Linked DNA regions of Homo sapiens: region 1 is linked to region 2. A link means that fine-mapping ties the variant in region 2 to the expression of a gene that starts in the linked region. Tissue or cell type: thyroid. Region 2 holds a variant in brackets; the other region holds the start of a gene. All regions are shown on one strand. Distances are between the middles of the regions.

Evidence for each region. PIP is the estimated chance that this variant, and not a neighbour inherited with it, causes the effect.
Region 1: SYT9 starts here. The variant in region 2 is fine-mapped to the expression of SYT9 in thyroid (GTEx, PIP above 0.99).

What each region holds. Positions count from the first base shown.
Region 1 is chr11:7,247,870-7,254,799 of GRCh38, reverse strand. It overlaps SYT9 (synaptotagmin 9), which reads right to left and starts at 2,896. Exons shown (of 7, transcript NM_175733.4): 1 at 2,469-2,896. The coding sequence starts at 2,613. RefSeq lists a silencer at 2,864-3,003.
Region 2 is chr11:7,343,899-7,352,253 of GRCh38, reverse strand. All of the region lies in intron 3 of SYT9 (synaptotagmin 9), which reads right to left. Among named protein-coding and RNA genes, the nearest start is that of SYT9, 96 kb to the right of the region's middle. The variant C/G (reference allele first, on the strand shown) is at 4,483.

The DNA of each region.
Region 1 (6,930 bases), 97 kb after region 2:
TCTTTTTTCTCCTTTTATAACCAAAGTCCTTAGTTCAGCTTGAGAAAACCTAGCTATCACAGGGTGGCCGTGAATGGACAATAACAGAGAAAGCTGGGACATGGCATTCAGGTGGATTCCTTTCCAGAAAAAGAAGTCATCCATTTACCGAGATGACTCTCTCTAGGAACCCATGTCTCAGGGCTGCTGTGCATGGTTGTTCTGGTTCACACTATCAACAGCAGGGACATTATTCACACGGCGTTGTGTGGTGCAGCTTTTCTACTACTCAGCTTTTAGGGTTCCGAGATTAAAGACACTCTTGCTTCAGAGGGATGAAGACAAATGCATCTGATGTAAGAATTAATGTCGGCAAGGCAAGGAAGGAGGGAAATGAAGGGAGATTTGGAAATGAAGGGAGAAGTGTCCTGAAGGAGAGGGTGCACTTTGGATGTAATCTTTGGCCTCATTTCCTCTCACCTTGCACTCGAAAACCCCCACCCCTGTCCTCATGAGCTGGCTACTTTCCAACAAAAACCAAAGAGCCACAGGGGCATGGGGCTACTTCAAAACCCTTGTGTCCTAGTTTAAGAAAGCAGAGCACTGCTATCAGGAACTCAGAGCAGCAAGGTCGACTCCTATCTCTAGCTATTCCTCCGCCAAGGAATCAGATTTCCTCTTGTAAGAAGCCTACTTAGTGACTCTTTCTCAGGGGTTGCCTGGTGTAGGGGCTGAAGAGAATCTGAGAACACAGGATCCAGCTCCCGGATTAAAAGGAGTAGAAGCAGAAAACTGGCCAAAAAGATGTGATTCAGAGATAGGCCTCATCCATCTTCTCTTGTAAAGCCAAAGACAACTGCTTATGTGGGATAACAAGGAGAACTCGTGGTCTGGTCACAGGCAAGGAAGTGAGATGTTTCAATACTAATACTTGCTTTGGGCAAAGCATGCAAAATAATTGTCTTGCTTCTGCTGCTTAAGGACGAACTTCCCCGACTTAAGACATCTTCCTGGGACTCCAGCTTGTGAGATAAGGGACTGTGGTTTATTCAGCACATCACATCCAGCAATGAGATGCACATAGGCTGGACATTAAACCTCCCTGGAAACCACTGGGATCAGTATTTCTCTACCCAATTATCCACTTTGAAGTAATATATCAATGATCATTCAATAAACTTAGTTAATATAACCACCGGCAATGGAAAACAATATTTTTTTCTTTTTCAATAGGAAAAAAAAGCCTCTGGTAGGGAAAATCTGATATAAACTTTAAAATTTTAGCAGATGACTTCACCCCACACGACCATCTTGAATATATCAAGGATATGCTATTTAAGTCTGGCTCAGTGTGACACTCTTTATAAATCAAATAATTCTTTAATTTATCTTTTGGATAAATGGATTTTTATATAATAAATTGTTTTCAATTCGTACATCATAATTTGCAAGGCAATAGCTCATTTCCAATATTTATACATAGCAATATCAAGAGAAAGGCCATTTTCTCATCCCATTTTTAACAATCCAACCACAATATGCTGTTTTGGTAAGTACTTAGGTTGGGAGAATATTCGAGAAAACTATTTCTCCAGGTGAGAAACATCTCAAGCAAACATTGGAAGGAATGCATTTTCCAGTAGCCAGTAACGGATGAGACGACCTGGGAGACCCAGGGACCTCAGGAAAAGCAAATGGCTCCACTAAAACTCCCTCCTCCAACCTTAATTGGTCAAATGCCAAAATAAATGAACTTTCCAAAGTTAAGAGCTTTGCAACTTTCACTAGGAGTAACTACAGGTGCACAAGCCAGGACCGACGAGTCTACGAACCCCATCGTGGCCGGCGGTAGTCGCTGGTCGAGCCTAGCGCCCAGGCCCAGGCCACCTCCATGCCGTGCGACCCGCCGGGAACGGGTTCAGGCCCGTCTGCCCAAGGCCAGAAGCACCCTGTCCCCGGCCCAACGCCGGATCGCGTCCCGCCCTTCTCACCCCATACCAAGGAAAGGAACTAGACGCTTGGGAGAAAGGATGAGCAGCACCCGGTGGGATTCGGCCCCAACCCGGGGCCGTCCCCAACTCCCAACTTCCCAGAGTTTCCTTCGGCCTCGTCCCCCTTCCCACGGCTCCGAGGCCGCCGCGGCCTCCCCTCGCTCTGAGTGCAGATAGCCCGGGAAGTGGAGAGCGTAGCTCGGAGCTAGGGAGCCGCCCCCAGGAGCCTTGGCGATGGGAGCGCAGGTGGCGGGCGTGGTCCCTCCAACCCTGCCCTAGCCGACCCGGAGTCGGCCTCCGTGCAGTAGCCACCGCCCGGGTCCCCGCCTGGTTACAGCATCAGGCCACAGTGCGCTGGTTCTTGATCACTCTCCTGGCTCGGTGGCCGCCCCCCGCCCTCTCCCAGTCCGCGTCGCTGTTCTGCCTCAGGCCCCGGTGCGGCCCCAAGTCCCAGCCCAGGGCCCTTAGGTCCCTCCAGGCGGCGGTGGCGGCACTCACCTGGGTCGCGGAGCCGGGGTCTGGCACGGTCCCGCAGGTGGTAAATGAAATCCTGGCAGCTGTCGTGCTCCAGGGCCCCACGGGCACAGAGCTCGGCCAGCAGCTGCAGCGCCTGGTGACAGAGCGCGTCCCTGGCCCCGGGCATCGCCCCCCCGCATCCTCGGACCGCGCCGGGCAGGCGGGCGCAGGAGACAGCCCTCCGCCTGCCAGCTCAGAGCCGCCGCCTCCGGGCCGTCCGCGCTCACCGCCAGGGACCTGCCGAGAAACGGTGCGAGCCTGAGCCCGAGCCCCAGACCCAGCCGGCCCGGCCTCCCACCGGTTGCATGCAGCTCTTCGCCAGCCGGTCGGTCAGGCTTTCTCTCTCTCCCGCCCGGTCCCTCCGTCCCTCCCCAGACACCGAGGAGAGGCGGTGCCGCACAGCCCAGAGCGCCTCTCTGCTTGCGCTCCGCCCGCTACTCGCGGCCGCCGGGGGGCGGGGCCAGGTCAGGAGTGCGCGCCGCAGGGTAGGATAGCGGCGGCCCCAGACCGGGGACCTGGGGTACTCCCCGGCTCCTGGCCGAGCGCGAGACTTGGCTTGGGACCTCGCGCCCAGAGCGGCCGCGCCCTGGCTTGGGGAGTGTGAGTGAGTGCGCGCTCCGGGCGCTTTCGCTACTCCACCCCTCATCCCTGATGCAAACCAAGCACCCGCTCCCACCGCCGAGTGTGTCCAAAGCACGTTCTTGGATGCCTAGTGCGAAGGTTACAATCTGGGCACACCCGCCAGATGCGCAGAACCGAGTCCCTGCTTCGAACTTGGAAAGAGCCGCCTGGGTTTGAACCATGGGCCTATGGGTGTCAGATGCCCAAATGCAGGGTTTGGGTCCAAGATTCGCCAACAAAGGAAGGATTTCCCAAGCACAGGCCCTTTTCGACCACTGTGGTGATTTGGATGGAGAAGGTGGAGGCTCTAGGTCAGAACTAAGATCAAATAAATAAACGATTCCTGGGAAAGACCCTGAGGCTTACCTGGGCTTCGTGGGTCCCTTAGTTTTCTAAGCAACCGTTTGGAAATCCAAACATTGCCAAAGTGTCTTCAGCACCCAAGGAGGAGTATCACAGAATCTTGGAGAGTTGGAAGGAACCTCAGGGCACCTCTCATCCACCCATCTTTTCAGCCTTTCAAGCAGTAAAGCCTAGAAATAACCACGAAGTACTCTGGGTGTGTGTGTGTGTGTGTGTGTGTGTGTGTGTGTCACTGTGCCACAAGCCTTTTAGGTACATAATCTCATTTAATTCTGTACATAGCCCAACAAGGTCTGTGTAATTGTTATCCTCATTTTACCAATGAGAAACTGGGGCCTGGGGACTCACAAAGGTGTTACTTGCTCAAATTCATACATGATGAAGGTAGCTTTGATTTTCTCTCTTTCTTTTTTCTTTTTTCCTTCTTTTTCTTTTGTCTTTTTTGTAATACTGGTGTTCAGGCCCCCACTCTAGAGCAATTAGAGTAGGATCTCTAGAACTGGTAACTATCATTCTTAGCCATGAGGTTGTGCCGTCTCTACGGACATATCACAACAATTCATATTTGCACAGAAAGATAATTTGGGATCCTATAGAATGCTCACGCAACAGGCAACCTTTGAAATCCTGCTGTGAATGGTACTAGGGTTTCAGGGAACTTACATGGGAATAGCAGAGAAAATGCAAAGTTGTAAAGGTAAAGATGCCTCCAGAGAGTTGCAAAGAGACAAACAGAGGGAGGAGAAACCAGCTTTAAGGGAGCCTGTAGGGGAGGTTGAGCAGATGCTGTTTCTTCAAAGGGGGGAACCCCTAGAGAAGAAGAAAAAGGCCATGAACAGAGAAGGTGACACCAGAGATAGTGTGATGCTGGGGGGGGGTGGCGGGGGGGACATATAGTAATGGTGAGAAGGTATGTGTGTTGAAGCACATGGAAATATTACCCTAATGCCATCATGTCAGAGAGGAACTGAAAGCAACAAGTTCAGTTAAAAAATGACTTTGATAAACCAGGCAAGAGATGATGAAGGCCTAAACCAGGCCAAAGGCATTAGCTGATTGCTAGAAACATCCAAATTTGAAAAACATTTCAAGTATTAAGTGACAAGATTGCAACCAATGGAATAAGAAAGAAGTGAAAGGCACAAACGTTTCAAAACGTTACCTGGGTCATATGTGCTCACACCCTAATAACACTTAGAAATGCAAGCCTAGAGTTTAGGAGAGAGTGAAGACTGGCAATCATCATTGGAAAGGTAGAAACTGAGTTGCCACATGGGATGGTTCCTTCAAGAAAGAAGAGTTGAAGAAATGAAAGAGGAGATTGGAAGGTAGCAATGAGAACAGGAGGAAAGATTGTACAGAGGGGAGTCATAGGGATCACGGGAGGAGGAGTGTTTGGTAGAGGAGCGAGCAACATCAACTGTAAACTTTCAAATATAGTTTAAAGAGAAAAAACTAAAAAGTGTCCTTTGGATAAAGTAGACAGTAAGACATTCAAGATTTAGACAGACTAGTTACTATGCAACCAACCTTGTGCAAGTTAACATTTTTGTGCCTAGGGTTTCTCATCTTATCTCAAAGATAACGTGTATCTTTGGGCTGTTACAAAGATTACATAAAGCAATATATTTAAGTGCTTGTAATAGTGCTGCCACATAGTATGGGCTCAACCAATATGTGTTTTTGCTGTTTCTGTTATGTTTCTACTACAATGTACGAGGTGCTAAACACACTTTCTTAATCTATTACTTACAACATCCCAAAGTGGTTGATGCTATATTTCCTATTTTACAGGCAAAGAAAGTAAAATCAGGTGGTTAAACAATTTGTTCAAGGACAAATTGGTAGACTGTTTCCAAAGACAGCCATAGCTATCCCTCCAATTCCATGTGTCCTTTTGGAGTGTGATTTTACCACTCTTCCCATCAAGAAGTCAAGTCTGTTCCCCTCTGCTTGAATTTGGGCCTGCCTTGTGACTCACTTTATTCAACAGAATGTGTAGAAGTGAAATTCTGAGCTGAGTCTAGACTTGAAAAGATCTTGCAACTTTTACAGGATATCTTGCTGGAGAGGGGTCCAGAAGAATGAGAAACAATGTGGAGAAAGAATATCATACAGAAGGGAAGTGAGATACTGCTATAGAGTGAACTGTAAATTCTTATGTTGAAGCCCTAATTCCCGATGTCACTGTATTTGGAGATAGGACTTAATTAAGAGTAAATGAGGTCATAAAGGTAGAGCCCTGATCCAATAGGATTAGTTTCCTTATAAGAATCATCAAACCAGCTGGCTGTAAGTATTTGGGTTTATTTCTGGGTTCTCTATTCTGTTCCATTGGTCTGTATACCTATTTTTATACAACTACCATGCTGTTTTGGTGACTATGGTCTTATAGTATAGTTTGAAATCAGGTAATGTGATGCCTCCAGATTTGCTCTTTTTGCTTAGTCTTGCTTTGGCTATGTGGGCTCTTTTTTGGTTCCATATGAATTTTAGAATTGTTTTTTGTAATTTTATGAAGAATGATGGTGGTATTTTGATGGGAATTGTGTTGAATTTGTAGATTGCTTTTGGCAGTATAGTCATTTTCACAATATTAATTCTATCCATCTGTGAGCATGGGACATGTTTCCATTTGTTTGTGTCATCTCTGATCTCTTTCAGCAGTGTTTTGCAGTCTTCCTTGTAGAGGTCTTTCACCTCCTTGTTTAGGTATATTCCTAAGTATTTTATTTGGAAAGGACACCCTTTTCAACAAATGGTGCTGCAATAATTGGCTAGCCACATGTAGGAGAATGAAACTGGATCCTCATCTCTCACCTTATACAAAAATCAACTCAAGATGGATTAAGGACTTAAATCTAAGAGCTGAAACTATAAAAATTCTGGAAGATAACATTGTAAAAACTCTTCTAGACATTGGCTTAGGCAAGGATTTCGTGACCAAGAACCCAAAAACAAATGCAATAAAAACAAAGATAGATACATTTCTGGGACTTAATTAAACTAAAGAGCTTTTGCACAGGAAAAAAAAAACAGCAGAGTAAACAGACAACTCACAGAGTGGGAGAAAAATCTTCACAATCTATACATCTGACAAAGGACTAATATCCAGAATCTACAACGAACTCAAACAAATCAACACGAAAAAAACAAACAATCCCATCAAAAAGTGGGATAAGGACATGGATAGACAATTCTCAAAAGAAGATATACAAATGGCCAACAAACATGAAAAAATGGTCAACATACTAATGAACAGGGAAATTGAAATCAAAAGCACAATGCGATACCACCTTACTCCTGCAAGAATGACCATAATCAAAAAATCAAAAAACAGTAGATGTTGGTGTGGATGCAGTGAACAAGGAACAATTCTACATTGCTGATGGGAATGTAAACTGGTACAACCACTATGGAAAACAGTGTGGAGATGCCTTAAAGAACTAAAAGTAGAACT
Region 2 (8,355 bases):
ACCTAATATGAGTTTATGCTTCTTCAAGAAGGAAAACGCCTACTTTCTTAAAATTCATTTATGTCAGAAGTCAGTCTGAGGCAGATTGAGCTACACTGGGTAAATTCTCACAGCACTTCACAAACACATATATTTCCCAAGCCCCTCAGGGATGTTCAGTTATCTGCTGAGCTAGTTGGGATTTGACTAAATAGCCACACAATTGCTCACCATCTGGGCCATCCTCAGACCTAGACCTGCAAAGAAAAGGAAGGTCTGTTGGTCCCTCTGTGCCCTCCCACTCCCATCCTGTTCCCACCACTCCTGTAGAGTTTTTTTTCCTGGAAAACACATTTGCAAGCCAATCACCACCAGCTCACCCATACAACAGACTCTGAAATAGAGTGGTTGGTTACTCATTAATTTTTCCTTCCTTTCTCCTTACTCTCAGGCCTGAGTGTCACACTCCTGGTGATGTCTGTAAAATAGAATCTTCCCAGCCCTGGGGATTCAAATACCAGCATATCTTTCAAGTAAACTCACAATTTGAGGATATTTTGCTTGCTAGAGAAGCAAAATGTTGACAAAACATGGCTTAGTCTCATCTCAAGTTTCTACTTCCATCTTCAGAATCGATGAGGATGCTGGAAAGTGCATCATTAATCCCATTGCATCATCTTATTGAAGATGCTGGTGTGGTGTTTACAAAAGGAGATGCTTTCTTTCCCCATAAAATCAATGATGACAGGGTAAGGCTCTGGGCAGGGAATGAGCAGTCTGGAGCTCCAGTCCGACATACAGCTCCCACACAAGGAGTCCGTAACTCAGCGGCTGCTCTCAAAAGTGGGCCAGCACTGCCACTGCATCCTACATTAGGTGGCTGCCATCGGACAGGCTGCCCAAAGCCTCAGGGCCCTCTTGCACTGACTGTGGGAGCTTGACCCTGGCTAGCCACATCCCTGGTCAATTAGCATGAATGACAGATGCTTAAAAATATAACCACTGCCCCAAACGACATTCAGATAATACTCTTCTTATATAAAGACCGAGGGAATTACTGGGCTTTCAGTTTCTTTCCCCACCAAAGTTCATGATACTTAACCATTAAGAAACAGGCAATATATACCACTTCATCTTTTTCAAGGAGGTTAAAAAAATCATTAAAGATAATTTTTTAAAACCCTAGTTATTTATGTAGGACCAGGACTTTATTAGCTGGCCGCTTTGATCTTGACTTTTTTTAAGACAAAATCATGACATCATTTAAAAAATCACTGGTTTTGTTACCCTGATACTTACTTCACGCCTAATCTCACTCCATAAGTGACCATCCCTCACACATAGGTTGAGAGTGAGCAATGGGATCAGGGTCAAGAATCCACTATAAATAATTGTTTTACACATTTAGAAATGTTTTTAAAGCTAAACATTTATCTGTTTGCTTTTAGATAGTGTCAAAATGCAAGTAGCATTTATTTTCTCTCTCTTTCTACATCACGTCTTCTGGAAAAATCATGCTCTCAGGTTGAAAGTTGGTGGTGGTGGCAATAGCAATGCCAGTCACCAAAGAAGGAGCTGTGGCAGTGGGCATTGAGAGGAGAAGAGATTGGACCTGAAAGAAAAGAGAATGAGCTCTAACATAAGCCTTGAGATATGGAAGATGAAGGAAAGTGAGCCCAGGCCCCAGGGCTGCATTTTGAGGTGTGTATCTATGAGGCAGAAGTAGGCTGAGACATAGGAAAGAGGGGATAAAAACTTGTGGCCTGCAGGACAGATCAATGCACGTAGGCAGCTCAGGTAGGAGGTGACTTTGGCCATTCTTCAAACTGATGTTATTTAAATATCTGTTCAGTGTTTATGAGAAGTTGGCTGCTCTGATGGGTAGACAAAGAGGGTTGTTGGAGACAGTGCTAGTCTTTCCTTTACCACCCAAATAGCTCAAGCCTGAAGCCTGCATTTGCCTGGACCTACACCTTCAGAAGACATATTAGTGAGCATCTACTGCAACTTGAGCTATTTGGGAATGTCATCACTTCTTCAGGTATTATTTCCAACCATATGTAATGTTCTTCTAGAAAGTTATACAGATTAATAGGTTCCTCCACCTCAATGTTTTAGTACCCTTTATTGATTAGTTCTCTGGAAATCTGTCCGGCCAGCCTGATCCTTATTCAGCCTCTGATGTATCATCTATTCAGCAAAAACTATATTGACCCATGAGGCATCCTCGGTGGGTCCCCCCCTGGCATGAGTGACTCACAGGGTGGAGTGTGATGAAAGCAGCAGAATGCCAGTGTCTCTGAAGTGTACTGGATTCAAATCATGATACAAACTCATTTTTATTCTAGAGTTGATGGAAGCATTGTTCAGGACCTATTTTTTTACCAAGATGGATATTTTGAAGTGTAGTATAATCGGGAAAACTGAGTTTTGGAACACAGGCTTCAAATAGACTTACATTTAAATGCTATCTCACCTTTATCACTTGTGTGGCCTTAGGCGAGTAATGAACCCTTCTATACCTCATTTTCCTATTCTGTCATATGGGCATAATAGCTATTTCACTTCTGTGAAAATTAAGTGGAAAACACACTAGAACTGGGGTCTGGCATATAGGCAATGTGCATGGATTTGTTGGGACAGACGTTGGTAGGGTGATAGGCCTGGGCTCTGGGAAGCTGAGGGAAACCCAGCCCTTGCTGTATGGAGTCTCTGCTAAGATGAGTAGGTGGCCCCTGTAGGAACATGACCCCTGCCCGCAGCCCACCTCAACTGGCTGGAGGCAGGGGCAACTCTGTGCATTTGGGCCTGCGCCTTTCTCTGTTGTCTCCAAGTCTTATTTGCACTCTGGTAGAGAGTTTTCATGGTGTGTGTGTGTGTGTGTGTGTGTGTTTGTATATTTTTTATTGTGGTAAAATGTACATCATAAAATTTATCATTTTAACCATGTGTAAGTATACAGTTCAGTGGCTATTAAGTACATTCACAGTGTTGTGCAACCATCTCTACTGTCTATTCCAGAATGCTGGCATCACCCCAACTAGACACTCTGTATCCATTAAACAATTTCCCCTCCCCCCAGTCCCCGGCAATGCTCGTGGAGTTCTTTAATCCCCAGTAAAGAGAGTAAGTGGCTCTGACAGTGAGCAGGAGCCCACTTGAAATCTCCTATTCCAAACCTACCTCTGAGTTTTATGACTCATTTGGAAGCCACTCCCTAAAAGCTGCGGGGAGCTCAAAAGCACATCTGGATGTGTGGCCCCTCTGCCTGACAGCCCAGCAGTACAGCCATCTTCCCACCCCCAGCCCGCCTAGCTGTGGCCCTGCAACCTCCTCAGCGTGAGGAGTTCAGCTTTCTTTTCTTTCTCCAGAACCAGTCACACCTCCCTCAGCTATTTCTGTAACTGCTAGAATGGAGAAATACACAGAGCAGAGACAGGATACGGGTCTGATGCCCATGACTGGATATGAAATCTAAGAGACAGTAAAAGAAAAACCCATTTTAAAAAGGGATCAGCTCAATTCCTAAAATCCACCCATCCGCACTTTGAAAATACAAAAAAAAAAAAAAAAAAAAAAAAAAAAAGGAGGTCTGATGGCTCTGATACCTGGAAGGGATTAAATGCTAAAGATAGCCTGAGGCATTGAGAATGCTGAGGGAGTGCTCAGTTCATGAAGCTGAGGGCAGTAAAATCTGGTATTAAATGCTAACAAGAGAGGAGTTCTTACAGAATGTTCAGTATCTGTGAGTCACTGGGACCTTCCTCCATTAAACGTGAAGCAATATTCTTTAATATCAGCAGGATTACAGATCTTACTGTCCAACCCAGTGTGTTAAGAAAGCACTATATGCCCAGTAAAGGATGCAAACTGACCCGAAATGATGGAAATGAACGATGGATTAGATTCTCTAATGCCTCCCTGTTTTGAGTGAAGCCATGCTGATGGCCAGGTGACATTTGCAGGGCCATCTGGTGACATTTCTTTTTGGGAACAGATTAATAGAGACTGAGGAGGGGGGTAGAGTTGGTACAGGGACCAACACAAGATTTTCAGGTGGCTTCCTGGAGTTGTATATGTCTTTGAAGGGGGAGGTCCTGTAGTTTTTCTAGGAGAATGTGGCCAAACCATAATTGTTAAACATTGCATGACCTGATGGGGGACTCCCTCTGTGCAGAAAGAGTTCCTTTAAATTCTGAAAGCATGAATTAATATAAAATCCAAGTATTCAGGAAAGTCCCTTGTTAGAAAAGGATGTCTCCCCCTTCCCCTCACTCCTCCAGGAACAGAGGGAAATAAATGTAGCTAGAGCAGAGTCGCTGTTTCACGGAATTGCTTCCTGCTCTGATGCCACAGACTTAGCCTTCTGCCAGCCTGTGGTTTCCTCCTTCAGTTTCCATGGGCATTCTAGTGCTAGCACGGAGCCTGTCTGTTGAAAGAACAAATGCTTCAGGAGGCCTGAGACCACTCTTTCACGCTCTGTCCTCACTCAGTTCTTGATCC[C/G]TGTCTCAATCTGGCAGACACCAAAATTCCTTGTCCTGCTTCCCACTCCCTCAAAAAGCTGCTGGCCAAGGCTGTTGTGAAACAAGAGGAAACCTTTTCCTCTAGGCACAAGTAGAAGCACATATCCACAATCTTCCTGACTCCCCAGTTCCCACAGCATGCTTATTTGACAGCTGCCAGCCCCAAGATCCCTGAAGCTGCATATGAAACTTCCCCATGCTTTGATGGAAATAGTTCGGCTGGGCGCAGTGGCTCACATCTCTAATCCCAGCACTTTGGGAGGCTGAGGTGGGTGGATCGCCTGAGGTCAGGAGTTCGAGACCAGCCTGGCCAACATGGTAGAACCCCGTCTCCACTAAAAATACAAAAAAAATTAGCCGGGTACAGTGGCAGTTGCCCATAATCCCAGCTACTTGGGAGGCTGAGGCAAGAGAGTCGCTTGAACCTGGGAGGCAGAGGTTGCAGTGAGCTGAGATCGTGCCATCGCACTCCAGCCTGGGGGACAAGCGTGAGACTTCATCTCAAAAAAAAAAAATATTTTGATGAAAACGGTTTGAAAGCAGTATTGGTTAATTGATAAGTCCCAGCTTCTCTTCTGGGTACGCTGACTGTGACCCCTCAGCCTCCAAAGAGAGAAGACAGACAAGCTTCCTTTGAAGGCTGTGCTCTGCATTTTGGCTTGTTCAGGGATGCCTGGCTAGCAGGGAAGCCCTGATCTCAGCAAACATGGACAAAGGGAATGAAGCCCTGTTCAGGAACAGGGGCCCCACCCACCTGCAGAAATGGTCCTTTGAGACAAAACTTTGTGTTTAGTTTCCTTACTTAAACAAATTACAGCAAAGAAGCAGGCAAAATAGTGTCACAACCATATAAAAATTGCAAGTGAAGAACCATGGACAGAGATTATACAGGAAAGATATATCAAACTTTAACAGTGGTTACTTTAGGGCAGAGGGACTATAGGTGACTTTGTATCAGAATTATCTACTCTTCTGTTTTCATTCAAGTTTTCTGTATTGAGCAGACAGATTACATAATCAAGGAAAATCCAGCAAATTATTTTTGAAAAGTAAAACATTTTAAAATTTAAAAGGGACGCAAGTTGAAGTGAGACTGATTTTGTAGTTACTATAAAAGAAATCATCAGAGCAGTACACGCCAAAAGACCACAAGCTCCCTGAAGGCAGAGGCTCTTCCATATGCTCAGTACACAGCCCTGTTTCTTCCCTCCCAGAGAAGACAGAGACATCAGAAGGGCTACACTTGACTTCTTACCTTTGGATTCATAAATGTATTTGCACTTGCATTGGCCTCTCCCTCCCACTGCAACATGGGAAGAAGAGTTTTATCAAAAGCAAATCCGCCAACTCTGTTCTGGGTCCCATCCATTCGTGCCATCCGATGGGGTCTCAGCCACAGGAACCCCCTCTGCTGCTCATCCTCTCTTTCTTGCATCTCCAGGCTTCCCCACTACTGGCTCTTAGCTGTCAGTATTTAAATAATCTGTTTTCTCCCATTTTGAAAAATTCCTTCCCAATTTCAGTCCTCCTCTTCCCTTTTGCAGCCAAATGTGCCACGGAGCTATTTAAACATGCTGCCTCCTGTTCCTGTCATTTGCTTTCCAGTCTACTCTGTTCTGGCTTTGGTCCTTACTGCTCTATGGAAAGTTCCCTTACTAAAGCCACCAATGACTTTGCCGTCACATAATCCAGTGGGTTCTTTTCAGTCCTTTCTTCATCAACTTCAATGTAGCTTTGTCACTCTCTCAGTCAGAGTGACTCTGACCACTCTTGGTTCCTTGAAACATTCTTCTAGTGACTTCCATGATACAATCAACCAGTTTTCCTTTTACCTCTTTGGCTCTCTCTGCTCAGATTAAGGTCTTCTTTTCCATCTGAAGTCTAAACATTAGTATTCTTCAAAAACTGGACCTCTGTCCTCCTCTTTTATCACTCTACATTCTGCTAGTAAAGACCTTTGTCAACATCTATTTTTCAAATACCATAAACAGGATATGTTGACAATTTGTTAATTCATATTTCCAACTCAGGCCCTGCTTCTGAGCTCCAGCCTAGTCTATACAACTGTTTTTTGATTTTTTTATACTTGAATGTCTCACAGGTAGCACAAACTGAATATGTTAAAAATGGAACACATGATCTTACTTATACCAGAATACAGCCTATTCTTCACCTAATATTTCCCATCTCAGTAAATACCAACATCTGGAGTTTGCTCATGCTGAAAACCAGAAAATCATCCATCTTTGACCACTCTCTTTCTTCAATTCTCACATAAAATCAATCACTTCTGACAATGACAGAGAGGCAGGAAATGAATTTACTCTCACATTTTAAACAACTAAAAATCTGGACAAAATATATGAAACAATGATTGGACATCAGGTAATGAAGATATGTGATCCTTGAGTGACAGGAAACAAATGAGGCAAGAACTAAAACTGCCCATGTCACCACCTGGAGAAAGTTTCAGAGACACAGTACAGACAGGTGAAAACCCAGGCAGAGCCTAGTGGGCTCCCTCAGTTGAGGAAACGGACTTGGGAGTCTGGAGAGGCCATCCCCCCTAGAATTTGCAGGGTAGAGTACCAGAGAAGAGAACGATAAACAATGAGAGAGCTCGAGAGACCTGTCTTAGAAAATATTGCTGAGGGAAGGTAAAGACGATGTACTAAATGGAGAGAGATACACTGTTTGTGATGGGAAGACTCACTATTTTTAAGATTCCTATTATTTCCAAATAATAGAAAGTGATTCTATATTTAATGCAACCCCAATAAAAATTCAAGTGTGTGTGTGTGTGTGTGTGTGTGTGTGTGTGTAAAATAATGAGCTGATTATAAAATTCATATGGAAATGCAAAAGACCTAGATAACTAAAACAACTTTGACAAAGTAGGGTAAAGTTGCAGCACTTACACTATTTGATTTCAAGATTTATAAATCTGCAATCAAGACACTGTGATATTGGAGTAAAGCTAGACAAATAGAGCGATGGAAAAGAATAGAGAGTCCAGAATAGACTCATATATATGATCAATTATTTTCTTCAAAGGTGCAAAAGACAATTGTGTGGATAAAATATAGACTTTTCAACAAATGGTGCTGGAACAACTTTATAGTATACACACACATATGCATTCACAAGAAAGAACTTCAAACCATATCATACTATACATAAAAATTAACTCAAAATGGATTGTAGTTATAAATGCAAGAGCTAAAATGATAGAACTTCTAGAGTAAAACAGTAAAAAAAAATACTGTATAAATTTGGATTAGGCCAGGACTTCTTTGACACGCCACTGAAAACATACCCTATAAAAGATGAAATTGAGTAAATGGACTTGAGCAGAATTAAGAATGTCTCTCTTTCAAAAGAAAGTGTTAAGAGAATAAAAAGCCATAGCTTGGGAGAAAATATTCACATACCATATATTTGATAAAGGACTGGCATCCAGAATATTTTAAAAGCTCTCACAACTCAATAATAAAAACGAAAAAAAAAGATGGGGGATTTAGGAAGAGAGACTAGGGGAACTGGGCTGCATGCCTCCTCCTGGTGGAAATTAATGAGGAATGTGCCAAAGAAGAAGGAAATAATCAAGTGTGGAAGTGTTCACAATGGAAAGCTTCTCTTCCCCTCTTCTGCCATAAAGACTGATGTGGTTTGGCTGTGCCCCACCCAAATCTCATCTTGAATTGTAGCTCCCATAATTCCCATGTGTTGTGAGAGGGACCTGGTGGGAGATAATTGAATCATGAGGGCAGTTTCCAGCATACTGTTCTTGTGGTAGTGAATAAGTCTCATGAGATATGACGTTTTTATAATGGGTTTCCCCTTTCGCTTGGCT